Regions from separate parts of the Homo sapiens genome. Here region 2 is linked to region 1. The links come from fine-mapping of genetic effects on gene expression. A gene starts in region 1. The other region holds a variant in brackets. All regions are shown on one strand. Distances are from middle to middle.

Region 1 (9,541 bases):
GGCTGGTCTCGAACTCATGACCGCAGGTGATCCGCCTGCCTCAGCCTCCCAAAGTGCTGGGATTACAGGTATGAGCCACTGCGCCCGGTGCATTTGGAGAAATTTCTACTTTGATCTAAGAACTTTAAATTTGGGCTGGGCGGATGACTCACGCCTGTAATCCCAGCACTTTGGGAGGCTGAGGCGGGCACATGGCTTGAGCTCGAGTTCGAGACCAGCCTGGGCAACATGGTGAAACTCCATCTCTAGAAAAAATACAAAAATGGCCGGGCTCAGTGGCTCACGCCTGTAATCCCAGCACTTTGGGAGGCCGAGGTGGGCGAATCACGAGTTCGACACCAGCCTGGCCAACATGGGGAAACCCTGTCTCTACTAAAAATACAAAACATTAGCTGGATGTGGTAGTGGGCGCCTGTAATCCCAGCTACTCGGGAGGCTGACGCAGAAGAATTGCTTGAACCCGGGACACGGAGGTTGCAGTGAACCGAGATTGCACCACTGCACTCCAGCTCAGACGACAGTGCAAAGACTGTCTAAATTAAAAAAAAAAAAAAAGAAAGAGAAAAAAAGAAAAAGAAAATAAAAAATACAAAAATTACCAGGAGTGGTGGTGCAGGTCTGCCGTCCCAGCTACTCAGGAGGCTGAGGTGGGAGGATCACTTGAGTCTGGGAAGTCAAGGTAGCAGTGAGCTATGATTGTGTCACTGCACTCCAGCCTGGGAGACAGACTGACACTCTGTCTCAAAAAAAAAAAAAAAAAAAAGAAAGAAAGAAAAAATGGCCAGGCGCAGTGGTGGCTCACGTCTGTAATCCCAGCACTTTGGGAGGCCGAGTCAGGCAGATCACGAGATGAGGAGTTCCAGACCAGCCTGGCCAATATGGTGAAACCAGACCAGCCTGGCCAATATGGTGAAACCCCGTCTCTACTAAAAATACAAAAATTAGCCAGGCATGGTGGTGCACACCTGTAGTCCCAGCTACTCAGGAGGCTGAGGCAAAAAGAACTGCTTTAACTCGGGAGGTGGAGGTTGCAGTGAGCCCACATCGTGCCACTGCACTCCAGCTTAGGTGACAGAGTGAGACTCTGTCTCAAAAGAAAAAAAAAAAAGAAAAAAAAACTTATTTAGTCATAAAAAGCCTATGGGGTCGGGTGCAGTGGTTCACACCTGTAATCCCAGCACTTTGGGAGGCTGAGATGGGAGAATCACTTGAGCTCCGGAGTTCAAGATCAGCCTGGGCAACATAGGGAGGCCCTGTCTCTACAGAAAAAAATTTTTTAATTAGCCAGCATGTTGGTGTGTGCCTGTAAACCCAGCTACTTAGGAGGCTGAGGTGGGAGGATCACATGAGCCGAGGAGTTGGAGGTTGCAGTGAGCTATGATTGCACTACTGCACACCAGCCTGGGTAACAGCAAAACTGCCCCCCTCTGACGCCCCTGCTAAAAAGAAAGCCTATGAGGCTCATAATATTCTTTTTTTTTTGGAGACGGAGTCTTGCTCTGTTGCCCAGGCTGGAGTGCAGTGGCGCGATCTCGGCTCACTGCAAGCTCTGCCTCCCAGGTTCTCGCCATTCTCTGCCTCAGCCTACCGAGTAGCTGGGACTACAAGCGCCAGCCACCACGCCTGGCTAATTTTTTGTATTTTTAGTAGAGATGGAGTTTCACCATTAGGATGGTTTCGATCTCCTGACCTCATGATCCGCCCTCCTCGGCCTCCCAACGTGTTGGGATTACAGGCCTGAGCCACCGCGCCCCGCCCATATTATTCCTTCTACAATTTACAAAGGATGAAACAATGAAGGCACAGAAATTTACCAAGAAATGTAAAACTCAGCTAGTGTTCATCCTATTTGTAAATGGCACCACTCAGCTGATCAAGCCCAAAACACAGAAAACATCTTTTTTTTTTTTCCTCTAACACCTTTAAGGTTTCTTGGATTTGAACATCCTTGATTCTTTCCCTTTGGGTCCGGAGTTGGTTCCTTCCGGTGGATTCGTGGTCTGACTTCAAGAACGAAGCCGAGGACCTTCTCGTTGAGTGTTATAGCTCTTAAAGGTGGCATGGACCCAAAGAATGAGCAGCAGCAAGATTTATTGTAAAGAAGGAAACAACAAAGCTTTTAGCTTTCCACAGAGTGGAAGGGGCCTGGAGCAGGTTGCCGCTGCTGGGGGGAGTGGCCAGCTTTTATTCCCTTATTGTCCCCGCCCATGTTCCGTTTCTGTCCTAGCACAGTGCCCTTTCTTCAATCTTCCCCACGATTGGCTTTTAGACTCCTGCTGATTGGTACGTTTTACAGAGCACTGATTGGTGCATTTTACAGAGCACTGATTGGTGCATTTTACAGAGTGCTGATTGGTGCATTTTACAATCCTCTTGCTAGCTACAGAGCGTTGATTGGTGCGTTTTTACAGATCACTGAATGGTGCATTTTACAATCCCCTTGCTAGCTACAGAGTGCTGATTGGTGCACCTTACAATCCCCTTGCTAGCTACAGAGTGCTGATTGGTGCGTTTTCCAATCCTAGCTACAGAGTGCTGACTGGTGTGTTTTACAATCCTCTCCTAAGACAGAAAAGTTCTCCAAGTCCCCACTCTACCCAGGAAGTCCAGCTGGCTTCACCTCTCACCTTCATCCTGTAACCGAGTCCTAACTTGTTCTGCTCACTGCATGACAGCCAAGGGGTGAAGAGTCAAGGAGTTAGAGCAAGGATAGTAACTTTATTTCTGAGAGCTAGCAAACCCGGAAAATTGCAGAATAATGTACTAAAGAACCATCTTTTTGGCTGGGCATGGTGGCTCACGCCTGTAATTCCAGCACTTTGGGAGGCCAGGGCGGGTGGAACATGAAGTCAGGAGTTCAAGACCAGCCTGGCCAAAATGGTGAAACCCCGTCACTACTAAAAATGCAAAGAATTAGCCAGGAGTGGTGGCGGGTGCCTGTAATCCCAGCTACTCAGGATGCCGAGGCAGAAGAATCGCTTTAACCCGCGAGGTGGACGTTGCAGTGAGCCAAGATTGAGACACTGCACTCCAGCCTGGTGACACAGTGAGACTCCATCTCAAAAAAAAAAAAAAGTTGGAGTCTTGCTCTGTCGCCCAGGCTGGAGTGCAGTGCCTTGATCTTGGCTCACTGCAACCTCCACCTCCCGGGTTTAAGTGATTCTCCTGTCCCAGCCTCCCGAGTAGCTGGGACTACAGGCGCACACCACCACGTCCAGCTAATTTTTGTATTTTTAGTAGAGACGGGGTTTCTCCATGTTGGTCAGTCTGGTCTTGAACTCCTGATCTCAGGTGATCCACCTATTTCGGCCTCCCAAAGTGCTGGGATGAGAGGTGTGAGCCATCACACCCAGCCTGAAGAACCATCTTAAGTTAGTACACATTTCAGGCTCTTTTTGTGTTAAGGGCAGGGGGAAGAAGAGAGGGTTTGAATCAAGGGGTGACTGATGACCGTAGACATCTGGGCGCCAGCAAGGGTTCCTCGAGGCCTGAAGCCTCTCTGTTACTGGTCAGGTCACAATACTTTCTCAAACTCTCAACATTGTTACTTGTGTGTACACCCTCCTTTTCTCCTTGGGGGTTAGTTTTGGGAAGGGACTATTATCATCCTTGCTTTAAAGTTAAACTATAAATTCCTCCCTTGGTTAGCTTAGTCTATGTGCAGAGATAAGCAAAAGCAGTTAACTTAGATATCACCGATGGGTGGGAGTGGGGAGTTTAGGAGCAAAATGGAGTTAGTCATGCTAGGCCTCCTTTTCAATGTTACAATTCCACATTATCAAGTTATTTCAATCCCACATTATCAAGTTATTTCAATATTTCCAAATATATTCTTCTTCTTCTTCTTCTTCTTTTTTTTTTTTTGAGCGAGAGTTTTGCTCTGTCGCCCAGAGGCTGGAGTGCAGTTGCACGATCTCGGCTCACTGCAACCTTCACATCTCGGATTCAAGCGATTCTCCTGCCTCAGCCTCCTGAGTAGTTGGGATTACAGGCGTGCACCATCAAAACCCGCTGATTTTTGTATTTTTAGTAGAGACAGAGTTTCACAAAGTTGGCAAGGCTGGTCTTGACCTCCTGACCTCAAGTGATCTGCCCCTCTCAGCCTCCCAAAGTGCTGGGATTACAGGTGTGAGCCACCGTGCCCGGCCTTTTCTTTCATTTCTTTTTTTAAAATTTTTTAAAATTTTATGTATGTATGTATGTATGTATGTATGTATGTATGTATGTATGTATCTATCTATCTATCTATCTATCTATCTATCTATCTATCTATCTGTCTTGAGAGGGACTCTCTGTCACCCAGGCTAAAGTGCTGGAGGGCAATGGCGTGATCTATAGGCTCACTGCAATCTCCGCCTCCTGGGTTCAAGCAATTCTTCCGCCTCAGCCTCCCCAGTAGCTAGGATTACAGGCATTGGCCACCACACCTGGCTATTTTTAGTAGAGACGGGGTTTCTTCATGTTGTCCAGGCTGTTCTAGAACTCCTGGCCTCAAGCGATCTTCCCGCCTAGGCTTCCCAAAATGTTGGGATTGCAGGCGTGAGCCACCACGCCCAGCCCACCACGCCTGTTAATAAGCTATACCCTCACGGACCTGTCATTGGCATTAAATTTGATAATACATTAGAGTATTGTATATGAAGTATACGAAGGCCTGTGCTGAGTGTTCAAGAAGTCAGTCAGTATTATTCTACTTATATTAATAAATGAACTGATGAAATGACAATGGCGAGATCTCGATCTTCAACAATAAGGGAGATGGAAACTGAAGCAAGAAGTGGTCTACAAACCTAGCTCAAATTGTTGAGATTACCGGCCGTGCCCCTTATTCAGATCAACCCCTCCTCGGCTGATCGCCGGCGCGAGCCAGCCTAGGCTCCCGGAAGGTAAACACATCGCCAAGGGCTGGGCAGAAGGCGGGTGTGGGACGGGTGAGTGGCCAGCTAAAAGTGATTGGCAGCTGCCATGTCCACGTGCTCCGAGCTTGGAACCAGCTGTCGCGAGAATTCGATGTAAACAGACCAGTCTCCCTGTCCTCCGGCTCCAACCTGAAACGCTCACGTGAGCGGGACAGGAGTCTGGATCATGTTGCTTTTCTTTTCAAAGCCACGAAGGTTCTGTCTTCCAAAAAAAATGTACATGTTCGTAATTATTCCCCAGCTGCCTGCGTTTGCAACCGAACCTGACACCTCGGCTTCACCCGAACTTACATGCTGTTGTGTTTTCCCTCCAGCCCCAGCGGATTGGACACATTCAGAAGGCGGGTCCGCCTCTTTCCTACTTGCTGGTTGGCGAAGCTGACCTCCAAGGGCGGTGCCCGGCCATAGCCGGTTTGCTTCTGGGATTGGCTAGAGGGGGTGGTTCCGCTGAGGCGTGGTAGGAAGTGGCTGCCGTCAATCACTCGGGGAGACTCCAAACAGTGAGCCTAGAGCTGGAGACTAGCGTTAACCGGCGGGGCGGCCGGTGAGAGGGCTGGCAGGGCTTTGGCTTTGGGGAGGCTTGGGGAGGACGAGGGACTGGCGGCGTGAGGGGACTGGGTCGGGCTGGCAGGAATTCGACAGGAGAGAGGTGTCGATACTGGAGGGGGAGGGGAACAGTGCAAGGGGCCGGAGGGCGGCCGGGGGCAGCGGTGGCTCCGTGTTGGAGGTTAAGTGGGCAGCGCCGTACGAGTGTCTTTCAGGAGACTGGGGCCTGAGTGGCTGGCGAGGGTCGTCCCCAGGAGACAGGGCCCTTAAAGGGCAGGGCTTGGGAGACTGTGGTTCGAGAAAGCAAGAATGGGATGAGAATGAGAGGGCTGAGGGGCTGGAGGTGCAGGTATCCTCTGAGGAGGTGGTGGCTCTGCTCCTTGGGGCAGAGGGTGTTTTGGTTGTAGGAGGTGGGGCGCACAGGTTTAGAGTTTTCACATCAGGTGTGAATGCTCCCTACTTAAAAATGGTTTTCGGTGCCTTCAAGATGAGTTCCAGGTTGTGGGCTTCCCTGAGCCCTGTAAGAGATCTTTGATATTGCTGTCAGTCCTCTTTTAACCTTAACCAAGCCGACTCCATGCTCTTAAAATCTCAGTGATTCAGAGGGTCATGAAACATTCTAGGATCAGGATTTACTGATGTGACGGGAAAGGGTAAAGGGCTGTAACAACGTATTAGTTTATGTTAGTTATTTGACTACTTGCTACTAGTCAAATAATTACTTGACTTATTTGTTATAGTAGCAGGGGGTTACGAATGTGATTTAAATTGTGATTTACTCATAGATTCCCAACAGGTTTAATTGGAAGGTAGAGTGATATCATGTCACTTGTTCCGTTTGGTCTTGAAATATTGTACCATGTGTATTTTCACTATCTCAACATAAAATTGCAGTAAATTCCCATCCCATGATCTGGTTCTCTCACCCTTGTAATTTATGTTAACAACAGACCAAGGGGTACAGCAGGAGTCTTCCTTACATTGTTTTGTGGTTCTGAGACCTGGTCCTATTAAAAAACAAAACAGGATGGGCGCGGTGGCTCAAGCCTATAATCCCAGCACTTTGGGAGGCTAAGGCGGATGGATTGCTTGAGCTCAGGAGTTCGAGACCAGCCTTGGCAACATGGTGAAACCCCGTCGCTACAAAAAAATATAAAATTTAGCTCGGCATGGTGGCGCTCGCCTGTAATCCCAGCTACTCAGGAGGCTGAGGCAGGAGAATTGCTTGAGCCTGGGAGGCGGAGATTGCCATGAGCAGAGATCGTGCCACTGAACTCCAGCCTGGGCGACAGAGCGAGACTCTATCTCAAAAATAATAATAACCCCCCAAACCCCTCATTATAATTTGAAAAAAATTAAAAACCTACTTCCTCCTTTTTTCCCTTTCTGGTGTAACAGGAATTTCTGGGAAAGTTTCCTACATTTGAGGCATTTTTGACAAGGGATCTCTAGTGAGTAATCATAAATCTTCCTCCCTACCCCCAACAACGATCCATGTTTTTCTGTTTTTTGTTTGTTTGTTTGTTCTGGAAACAGGTTTTATGAATGAAGCTATGGCTACAGATTCCCCAAGAAGACCCAGTCGTTGTACTGGTGGAGTTGTGGTTCGCCCCCAGGCTGTCACGTAAGCACATTTCAGATAAACCCAATAGCTGAAGAAAAGATTACTCAGAATACTAACATTTAGGTTTTCTTTATGAACAGTGGTTACTTTTGTAAAAATCTTTTAACTGTTGGCTTTATGGGATGAATAATAATAATTGCCAAGACCAAATGAAGAATTGGAGAGTTAAGTTGACGTATTCAGCACATTTACAGAGTACGTGAAGAGCACTATGCTAAATCCTGAAGAGCAGTGTTTTCAAACTCCAGGTTTAACAAATTAGTGGATTGTTAAATCAGTTTAGTGGGTCAGGAGTTGTAGTAGAAAATGAAATAGAGGCCGGGCGCAGTGGCTCATGCCTGTAATCCCAGCACTTTGGGAGGCCCAGGCAGGCGGATCACGAGATCAGGAGATCGAGACCATCCTGGCTAAAACGGTGAAACCCTGTCTCTACTAAAAATACAAAAAATTAGCCGGGTATGGTGGCCCCTGTAGTCCCAGCTACTCGGGAGGCTGAGTCAGGAGAATGACGTGAACCTGGGAGGTGGAACTTGCAGTGAGCTGAGATCGCGCCACTGCACCCTAGCCTGGGCGACACAGCAAGACTCTGTCTCCAAAAAAAAAAAAAAAAAGAAAGAAAATGAAATAGAATATAATAGAAAATTAGAAAATATAGCTGAGAGTTTGTATTGTTTCATGACATGCACATAAATATGTTCATGTGTATGTATATATTTACCAGACAGTGATGTAAAATGTATCTCTTTTAACTTTTAAGTTCAAGGGTACATGTGCAGGTTTGTTATATAGGGAAACTCATGTCACAGGGGTTTGTTGTACAGATTATTTCATCACCCAGGTATTAAGCATAGTCCCCATTAGTTATTTTTCCTGACCCTCTCCCCGCTCCCACCCAACTCTGATAGGCACCAGTGTGTGGTGTTCCCGTCTATGTATCCATGTGTTATCTATAAAAGGAATCTCTTAGTCTAGGTCTCTGTCAGAAAGTTTCAAAGTAAGTGTCATAGTATATGTCTCTGTTTTTGGCATTCTTTGACAAAGAATGTCTATACTTACTAGAGTGAGTTTATAATCTAATATGGTTTGAAGATATGTATACTTTTTTTTTTTTTTTAGATGGAGTCTCACTCTGTTGCCCAGGTTGGAGTGCAGTGGCGCCGTCTCGGCTCGCTGCAGCCTCCACCTCCTCCTCTGTCTCCCAGATTCAAGCGATTCTCCTGCCTTGGCCTCCCAAGTAGCTGGGATTACAGGCGAGCGCCACCAGGCCTGGCCAAATTTTGTATTTTTAGCAAAGACGGGGTTTTGCCATTTGGCCAGGCTGGTCTTGAACTCCTGACCTCAGGTGATCTGCCTGTCTTGGCCTCCCAAAGTGCTAGAATTACATGTGTGAGCCACTGTGCCTGGCCAAAGATATGTATACTTGAAGGCTGACATGGGAGGATTGCTTGAAACCAGGAGTTTGACACCAGCCTGAACAACATCCTGAGACCCTCATGCCTTAAAAAAATACAAAAATTAGCCAGGCATTGTGGCAGGCGCCTGGAGCCTTAGCTACTCGGGAGGCTGAGATGGGAGGATCACCTCGGCCCAGGAGCTTGAAGCTGTGGTAAGCTGTGATTGTGCCATTACACTCCAGCCTAGGTGACAGAGTGAGACTGTGTCTTAAAAAAAATATATGTCTGGGCGCAGTGGCTCATGCCTGTAATCCCAGCATTTTGGGAGGCTGAGGTGGGCGGATCACCTGAGGTTGGGAGTTTGAGACCAGCCTGACCAATGTGGAGAAAACCCGTCTCTACTAAAAATACAAAACTTAGCTGGGGGTGGTGGCAATAGCCTGTAATCCCAGCTACTTGGGAGGCTGAGGCAGGAGAATCGCTTGAACCCGGGAGGCGGAGGTTGCAGTGAGCTGAGATCGCACCACTGCACTCCAGCCTGGGGGACAAGAGCAAGACTTCATTTCCAAAAAATAAGAAAAATAAATAGATATATTTTATATGTATATATATTATTCTTTTTTTTTTCTTTTTTTGAGATGCAGTCTCGCTCCATTGCCCAGGCTGGAGTGCAGTGGCATGATCTCGGCTCACTGCAACCTCCGCCTTCTGGGTTCAAATGATTCTCTTGCCTCAGCCTCCCAAGTAGCTGGGATTACAAATGTGGATCACCACGCCTGGCTAATTTTTGTATACATATATATATATTTTTTGAGACGGAGTTTCGCTCTTTTTGCCCAGGCTGGAGTGCGATGGCACGATCTCGGCTCACCGCAACCTCCGCCTCCTGGGTTCAAGCGATTCTCCTGCCTCAGCCTCCCGATTAGCTGGGATTACAGGCATGCGCCACCATGCCTGGCTAATTTTGTATTTTTTAGTAGAGACAGGGTTTCTCCATGTTGTCCAGGTTGGTCTCAAACTCCCAACCTCAGGTGGTCCGCCTGCCTCAGCCTCCCAAA
Region 2 (9,541 bases), 570 kb after region 1:
GCCTAAGAGAAGATAAGTGGTAGGGACAGGCTTTGAACTCAGGTTTCTCTGATTCCAAGGTCCATATTCTTTTCACTATACCATGATATTAAAAAGGAACAAGTGGGGCCAAGCACAGTGGGTCACACCTGTAACCCCAGCACTTTGGGAGGCTAAGGCGGGTGGATCACTTGAGGCCAGGAGTTTGAGACCAGCCTGGCCAACATGGTGAAACCCCATCTCTACTAAAAATACAAAAAAAAATAGCCAGGCGTGGTGGCGCACGCCTGTAATCCCAGCTACTCTGGAGGCTGAGGCAGGAGAATCGCTTGAACTCAGGAAGCAGAGGTTGCAGTGAGCTGAGATTGTGCCACTGCACTCCAGCCTAGGCAACAGAGACTCCATCTCAATAAATAAATAATAAAAAGGAACAAGTGTAGCTGACATTTATCTGAGACTTATCAGCCTTAGCACACATACACTAAAAAGTTTAAAACAGATTTTATGTTATTCACTAGAACAGATTCATTTACCTATATCATTGAGCCCTATAACTAAAGGGTCCATTTCTTTTAAATTGATCTCAGACACACAGAAGTATATCTTAACTAAAACTTTCTTCCCGAAAAGAAGCATTTTTAAAAGGTACCAAGGGCTGTTATTCTTAGAATGATTTGATGAAATCAAAGACAAAAATAGTTTAGGCTTTTGATTAGATTTCAATATGCCACTCTTACTGGGGAGCTTTCTCTTGTTTGGGCATGACAGGATTTTTGCCATGAGAAACCTTCTAGAGCTTCCGCCCCCTCAGTTCTCACTCTCCATCACTTACCCTTCAAAAGACTCTGAATAGCAATTACAATACAGTTAAGCTTTCTTTGGGGGACCCTCATATAGTGGGCACACTGAATATGTGGATTTAATATTAGAGGCTTGACTATTTGAATGTGATTGCAAAAGTCAGTGAGGACTCTGTTATTACTACGAATTTGTAGGTTGGTATTTAGCTTAGCAAGTGATGAAGCTAGTGAGTGAGCCTGTTTACCACCAAGTACCCACGTCTTCCTTTGGCTCTGTTGTCCTCTGCTTGTTTCATCTTGTGACTTAAAACACACACACCTTAGCCAACTGTTTATGCTAATGATGAAAGAGAAGTCAAAGTAAATAAGCTTAATAAAATAATAGTTTGGGCCTGCGCAGTGGCTCACCCCTGTAATCCCAACACTTTGGGAGGCCGAGGCAGGCGGATCACGAGGTCAGGAGATCAAGACCATCCTCGCTAACACGGTGAAACCCCACCTCTACTAAAAAAAAATTACAAAAAAAAATTAGCCGGCCGTGGTGGCGGGTGCCTGTAGTCCCAGCTACTCGGGAGGATGAGGCAGGAAAATGGCGTGAACCCAGGAGCCAGAGCTTGCAGTGAGCCGAGATCGTGCCAGTGCACTCCAGCCTGGGCAACAGAGGGAGACTCCATCTCAAAAAATAATAATAAGAATAATAGTTTGGAGGTAAAATGAGTCTAAAAAATGTACTTACCTATTTTTTCTCTACTAACATCATTTAACATGTAAAATAAAATTTTGTTGAATAAATGTTAAATGTTTCTGAGAAATCTGAGAGCTTTCATAATAGTATAATATTCAGGTTTTTTCTTGTTTGTTTGTTGTTTACTAAAGAGGAATCATTTCTCAGTGTTAAGTATATCTGGGACCAGAAATGGCTCTTGTTATCCAAGGTAAAGAATCCAAACATTGGCTGGGTGTGGTGGCTCACACCTGTAATTCCAGCACTTTGGGAGGCCGAGGCGGGCAGATCACCTGAGGTTGGGAATTCGAAACCAGCCTGACCAACATGGAGAAACCCCGTCTCTACTAAAAATACAAAATTAACTGGGCGTGGTGGCGCATGCCAGTAATCCCAGCTACTCAGGAGGCTGAGGCAAGAGAATTGCTTGAACCTGGAAGGTGGAGGTTGCAGTGAGCCAGGATTGCACCATTGCACTCCATCCTGGGCAGCAAATGTGAAACTCTGTCTCAAAAAAAAAAAAAAAAAATCCAAACATCAGGAAGACAGTGTAAATATCAGGGTCTGACCTAAAGGAGACCTTGAGATGTGTGCTGGTTAGCCCTTTGACAAGTCTCACAGTACCTTAAAACACATATTTATAGTGAGGTTTGAGTAACTTGGAAGTCTATTTTAGACCAAATACACGTTTGGTTAATGTTGCTAGGCATAGAGTGTAGCCCTCCTCCCTTCATATGAGATCCTTTAGACGTGACAAGACCCGCCTGTGATGCCTAGACCCTTCTCCCATTTAGAAGGACATCACTGAATGCAAATTTGCAAAAAGCTATGGCAGAACCTGTGGTTAAAATCTCATAAGATTCAAAGAGTCTGGAATTTAAGAAGCTAAGGGAAAATATATGTCCAGAGCCTATCTTCTACCAGTCAGCCTTGTTTTTGCTTACATAAGTTTATTCTTTTTCTGAGCCAATGTTGAATTGAAGTAATAGTGATCACAGCTTATCACAGTTCTCTAAAGATTATTGCCTCCTTCACTGCCTTCATGAATTAACACCAATTTCTTCCAAATGGAATTCTTTAAAAAAAAACAAAAAAACCCAAAAAACTTTATTGAGATATGATTGACATACAAAAAGCTATACACTTTTTTTTTTTTTGAGACGGAGTCTTGCTCTGTCACCATGTCACCAGGTTGGAGTGCAATGGTGCGATCTCGGCTCACTGCAACCTCTGCCTCTTGGGTTCAAGCAATTCTCCTGCCTCAGCCTCCCAAGTAGCTGGGACTACAGGCGCGCACCACCACACCCATCTAATTTTTGTATTTTTAGTAGAGATGGGGTTTCACCATGTTGGCCAAGATGGCCTCCATCTCCTGACCTCGTGATCCGCCCGCCACGGCCTCCCAAAGTGCTGGGATTACAGGCATGAGCCACTGCGCCCTACTGCTATACACATTTAATGTCTACACTGTGATGAGTATGGAGATACGTATATACCTATCCATCACCTCCAAAAGTTACCTGCTGCTCTGGCAGAATCTCTTTCTTATTTAAAGCTGAGTAATATTCCATTGTGTCTATATACTATATTTTCTTTATCCATTCATTCATGGATGGACATTTAGTTTGCTTCTACATCTTGACTATTGTGCATAATGCTACAGTGAACGTTCCATACAGTGAAGTGGAGATACCTCTTCGAGATCCACATTTCAGTTCCTTTTGATATATACACCCAGCAGTGGGACTGCTGGGTCATATGGTGGTTTTATTTTTAATTTTTTGAGGAATGTCATAAGTGTGTCTCAAGAAAATATAAAGACAGTATAAGAAGACTTAGAATTGAGTACAGTTTGATTGAATCAAGGGTAATCACCATTATCCTGATTTTCAGGACTTTCATTCACTTCCTTCATGTAGCACAGTTCCCTGCCAGAAATATCCATCATGGACGAAGTGACTGCTAGAGACTTCAGGGAAAATAATAACTTATAACTATTTTATGTAGTTGAGGGATGAGTGTTTTGGTTCTTTCCTAAAGAGTTGGAATCTGCTCTGTCAACCAGGCTGGAGTGCGCTGGTATGACCATAGGTCTCTGCAGCCTCAAACTCCTAGGCTCAAGCAGCCCTCCCACCTGGGCCTCCCAAGTAGCTGGGAATATCAGTGTGCACTACCACAACCTGCTAATTTTTTAAGTTTTTTTTTTCAAGAGACAGAGTCTTGCTATGTTGCCCCAGCTGGTCCTGAACTCCTGGCCTCAAGTGATTCTCCCTGTCTCAGCCTCCCAAAGGGATGAGTTTTAATATGCTAATTACTTCAAGTTTTAAAAGAATAATATGTCAAATTAAAGCATTTTTAAACCTCTTTTTTTAACTCAAGTAATACATATTTATTATTTAAAAAGCTTAAGAAAAAACAGAAGAAAAAAGAAAACTAAAATCACTTGTAATTTCCTTACCTACAGTTAACAACTATTAACATTATGGTATTTATTAAGATTCTTCTATGCATTTGTATACACACATATATACGCTATTGTTTGTAAAATGAAATCACACTGAGCTTATTTACCATTAGGTAATGAGTCTTACCTGTCCAGTAATGAATGTGTTTTCCTTTGCTTTTTTACTTAGCACTATATTGTGAATATCATGAACAAAGACAGTTTGGAAACAGGGTGACTAGAAGTCAACAAAAATATGTGTTACAAAAGAATAACAATAGGTAAAATTCAGAGTATTATTTTAATTTACTGTTAAAATTACCCAAATCTCACATACTTTATTCAGTCTATATTTTTAAAAATTGGATATATAGGCCCGGCGCGGTGGCTCATGCCTGTAATCCCAGCACTTTGGGAGGCCAAAGCGGGCGGATCACGAGGTCAGGAGATCGAGACCATCCTGGCTAACACGGTGAAACTTCATCTCTACTAAAAATACAAAAAATTAGCAGGGCGTGGTGGTGGGCACCTGTAGTCCCAGTTACTTGGGAGAATGAGGCAGGAGAATGGCATGAACCCAGGAGGCAGAGCTTGCAGTGAGCCGAGATCGCGCCACTGTACCCCAGCCTGAGCAACAGAGTGAGACTCCGTCTCAAAAAAAATAAATAAATAAAAAAGGATATATAGGGAAGGAGCAATTTTTTAAAGATTTAACTGCAATTGCATAGTATTTTGTGATTTCATTATTCATCTTTCTAAATGTGGTGTAATAGACTATAATTTTAGTAAGTGTATCAGTCCATTCTCACGCTGCTGTAAGGACATAGCCGAGACTGGGTAATTTATAAAGGAAAGAGGTTTAATGGACTCACTGTTCTGCATGGCTGGGGAGGCCTCAGGAAACTTAAAATCGTGGCGGAAGGGGAAGCAAACACGTCCTTCTTCACGTGGTTGCAGAGAGAAGAATGAGTGCCCAGTGAAGGGGGAAGCCCCTTAGAAAACCATCAGATCTCGTGAGAACCAACTCACTAAAACAAGAACAGGATGGGGAAACTGCCCCCATGATTCAATTATCTCCACCTGGTCCCTCCCAGGACACATGGGGATTATGGGAACTACAAGTCAAGATGAGATTTGGGTGGAGACACAGCCAAACGATATCAGTAAGTATTTATTTTTATTTATTTTTTAGAGACAGGGTCTTGTTATGTTGCCAAGGCTGGATTCAACTCCTGGGCTCAAGTGATCCTCTCACCTCAGCCCCCCGAGAAGCTGGTACTACAGGCATGTACTACCACACTCGGCTTAATTTTAGGAAGTATTTAAGCAAATATTATTGAGCTGTATAA[A/C]ACTGTTCATTTTAAAAAGTGAAAAGTTGTTTCCAAACAATGTGTCAATTAGTTTTTCTCTTTGGTAGAAAAATTGTATATGTTCAAATCAAAGTTGTAGAAGTACCTCCCTGCCTAACATTCAAGTGGTTTCAGATGGTAGGCTTTAACATAACAAGATGAGCTATTGGGCTCTCAGAAAAAGCAGTTCCTAAGGGAGCACCTACATTTAGTACTTCTTTTTCATGTTAATGAAGTTCTGTCTCATTGAAAGAAAAAAAAAGAGATTGTTGTTGAGTGGAGGTACCTACTGCCTAGTGCAAGGTCAGGAAGGCTGTGGAGCTGATGGGCAGCTCTTCAGAATCCAGGGGTCCATTATTGGTGCACTCAGCGTGAGGCTGAAGCTGGAAGGTCACCTCCCCTAACGTGAATAAAACTGAAGCTGTGAGAGCTCAGGTGATCCACCCAGGGTTCCACAGTGATTGGGAGGGCTGAGACTTTAGAATTCTGCCTTCTAACACCCAGATTTGGCCTACCTCACACACTGACAGGAATTCTCTTCTATCCTGGGAGAGTCTTACAACTATCACGACCTCATAACTGATCTAAGATGGCTTTCTGGAGATGGTCAAGTCAGGAATAGCTTTTAAATAGGTTGCTATGGCCGGGTACAGTGGCTCACGCTTGTAATCCCAGCACTTTGGGAGGCTGAGGCAGGCAGATGGCTTGAGTCCAGGAGTTCAAGACCAGCCTGGGCAACATGACGAAACCCCATCTCTACAAAAAATACAAAAATTAGCCAGTCATGGTGGCATGTGCCTGTAGTCCCAGCTATTGAGGAGGCTGAGGCGAGAGGACCACAGAAGCAGAGGTTGCTAAGACTCGAGATGGTGCCACTGCACACCAGCCTGGGTAACAGAGCAAGACTGTCTCAGAAAAAAAAAAAAAAAAAAAAAAAAAAGATTTATGTTGTTTCCCCCAGTCCCCTAGGTCTCTCCTTTTACTTCCGCAACCAACCAGAAGTCAATGTAGGAGCCTTGGTGTTAGGTGTAGGCTAGGGGTGGCACCTGACACGGCATCACTGGAGCCTGTGTACTGGAATTAGACCAGTTGCTACAAGTTAGCTCTGTTGGTTGTCAAGAGAATTTCCTTTTCTTTATTAAAATGCAAGTCATGCTTTTGTTTTAATACAATATCAACCATTCAGCCTTGACATGATTTAAAATGAATATGGGTAGTTTTGCCTTTGAGTGAGAGTGTGTGTGTGTGTGTGTGTGTGTGTGTGTGTGTGTGTATGTGTGTGATAACCTAATTGACAAAGCAATCATGATGTTTTCCATGAGCCTGATGTTATCCCATCATTCGGAGACCCATTTTGTTTAATTTGTTTTTTCATATAGTTTCTGGTGGGAAAAATGCATTGCTTTAGTACCGAAATTAACTTGATTGAAATGTCTTAGACTTTATCATTTTCCAGTGGCTCAAAGGGTTATTTCCCAAGTGTTTAATTTTTTAAGTACAGTGTATATTAATTTCACTGCTACTTTCTGACATTCATCATTCCATGAGAAATTATCACAGATGAATACATCAGACTTTTATTTACACTCCAATTCCTACTCAATGTAAAGTTATTTAACTTTGACGATAGCATGCAAATTTGATAAAGATGAGGTTTTTAAAAACCTGAACCATTTATTGATTTGCTAAGTATAATTTTCACATTTTTCTTATAGTATTCTATAATACATCTTTCAGAAGGAAAACACTTGAAAACTAGTATAATCTTCAGGAACCGTTCAATCAGAAATAATGAGTGGAGAGGTCACTTATCAAAAATATATTGTTTAAAATACTTATATTTAAGTATTTCTAGTCTTTGAGGTAAAAAGTTCTGCCACAAAAAGTATGGATTCATTGGGCTTCTGAATTCTGTACATGTCACGATTTTTGCTCTTGGGCTAAAGATAGAAAGTAAAATAAAATGTTCTTTGTCCATTTAGTTATCCTTGACTCCATGAAATTCTCCAAAGTAATTACTGGTGACCACAATACCACCTACCAGCAAGAGCAGCATTGACCATGTGCCAAGTCCCTTATTGCCGACCACAGCTGCTCTTGACTACAGCAGATGTTTCTTCTTTTGACTTGGCAGTAAAATTTTATTAAGCAGTTTTGCAAGTAGAGAGCAGCATACTCTACCTGATGAGTGGCTGGAGATCTTAGCCCTTTTGTGCAATCAGCTTAGTTTTCTCCTATCTACCATCAGGCCCCCGCCTCTAGGTTCCTTGGATCTCACCAACCAGGCCTCAGGCCTTGTAAACTGCAGTCCTCTTGGGTTTGCTTCCCTACCCACCCATGTAATTTTCCCAAAGAAAATAATGTTAGAAGAGCAGCCGCACTTGTGGTTACAACTTGCGGCATTGAAAGGCTGTCACATTGGAACTTTGTTCCTACCAGTTGTGGGTTTACAAAAAGGAGTTGGGGTACTTTGTTGGGATGTTTTGTTAGGATGCTTTTCTGAATTTTTCCACATCTCTTTGGTTTGGATGTTGACTTGGAAATCTCTTTTGAATTAGCTTCTTTTGGAGAGCTTTCTGCTTTTCTGAGCACTTCTTGGATCCTTTCCCCAACAAAGCCACCAAGGGAACTTCTTCTGATCCTATCTCTTTTGTAGGTGGTACCCTATTTGAGTCCTTCTGAAGACTGGAGCACATAAAGGCCTGATTTTTTCTTCTGAGTTGGATTGGATGGTTTAACATAATTTGTCTCTATGTTTTCTGTCTTGGGTAAAGGAATATATTTGTGAATTGTGGCTGATACTACTTTAAAAAATTCCAAAAAGAAAATCTAAAGGACCATTCCTATGATTATTGCAACCCATTTCTCAGGTCTTTCAAAGAAAACAACTCGTAAAGATACTGGCAGTTGAAGGTCTAAGTCCCAGCCTGGCATGAATTCCCAGAGAGCCTTGGGCCTTGGGAGGAGGGGTAATATACAAGATTAGAGTGCAAAGTCCATCTGGTGAGAATTTGTCTGGTTTGTGCTTCCTCAGCAGGGAGGAAGTAGCAGTGACCTCAGTCCTGAATGGTTATTTCAGAAGTGTATCATGGTGGGAATTTAGCCAGCTTTGTGGCAGATGACCAACCCTGATAGCCTGATTTTTAAGGCCCCTAACACAAATGATACCAGGACTTCTTTGAATATTCTATTTAGTCTGTACTAGGACACATAGGACAAGATGAGCGACTATTTTAGACCTGTAGGTCAAGAGGTTTGAAGCAGTATATTCACCTTTTACACTTCAAACCACTTGGAGTATCTTAAAGAAGTAGTATACTGTCAAATACTTATAAAACTTCCTTCTTCTTTGCTCTTAAAGATAAGACGTTGTTTAGATGAATATATATTCTTTTCCTGTGTATTCTACTATTCCTGCAAAAATTTGTTTTTAAAATAAGAAACTTGGCTGGGCTTGGTGGCTCACGCCTGTAATCCCAGAACTTTGGGAGGCCGAGGCAGGTAGATCCCCTGAGGTGAGGAGTTTGAGACCAGCCTGGCCAACATGGTGAAACCCCATCTCTACTAAAAATACAAAAAATTAGCCGGGAATGGTGGCGGGTGCCTGTAATCCCAGCTACTCGGGAGGCTGAGGCAGGAGAATCACTTGAACCCAGGAGGCAGAGGCTGCAGTGAGCCGAGATCACACCACTGCACTCCAGCCTGGGCAACAAGAGTGAAACTCCATCTCAAAAATAAATAAATAAAATAAAATAGAAACTTGAAAATAATACCAGCACTGCTAGAGTGGGTATTTGGCTCAGTTCAGGCCTGTGCCTTTTTTTGATGTTCCCAGAGCAGAGCACTCCTTAAACTAGGATGAGAAAAGTTAATTTTAATCCTCCAAAGGCTTATTTGCTAGCACAAAAGGTCATGAAACACACCCAAAACTATATTGCTAAAATCTGAAGGAGAGAGATCTCAACAGCAGAGATGGACTCTAGTGTCCCAACATAGAATTGTGTCTCTGGCTGAAGAAATAGTTTGTTTTAGGAACGCCAATACAAAAGCTACAGAATGGAAGAGTTTTCCCTTAACTGATCTAAGGGAAAATTCTTTTTCTCGTGTTGTTTTAGGAAGCTCAGAATTATTTAGAAATACTTGTGAAATCATGGTCACAGGAGTTATTTCCAAGGATGTTTAAGTAGCTGCTCTCTGCCCATTATTTTGATAATTACTACACCTTAATCTGTTATCTGTCAAAAGG

Evidence for each region. PIP is the estimated chance that this variant, and not a neighbour inherited with it, causes the effect. A credible set is the group of variants that fine-mapping cannot tell apart.
Region 2: its variant is the best candidate, but not a certain one, in a credible set for the expression of BCAS3 in testis (GTEx, PIP 0.75).

The regions. Positions count from the first base shown.
Region 1 is chr17:60,672,452-60,681,992 of GRCh38, forward strand. BCAS3 (BCAS3 microtubule associated cell migration factor) reads left to right here and starts at 5,400. Exons shown (of 24, transcript NM_017679.5): 1 at 5,400-5,463; 2 at 7,002-7,089. The coding sequence starts at 7,007. RefSeq lists a silencer at 4,780-5,533 and enhancers at 4,952-5,121, 5,292-5,441.
Region 2 is chr17:61,240,263-61,249,803 of GRCh38, forward strand. All of the region lies in intron 22 of BCAS3 (BCAS3 microtubule associated cell migration factor), which reads left to right. Among named protein-coding and RNA genes, the nearest start is that of BCAS3-AS1, 110 kb to the left of the region's middle. RefSeq lists enhancers at 4,938-5,463, 5,464-5,989. The variant A/C (reference allele first, on the strand shown) is at 5,296.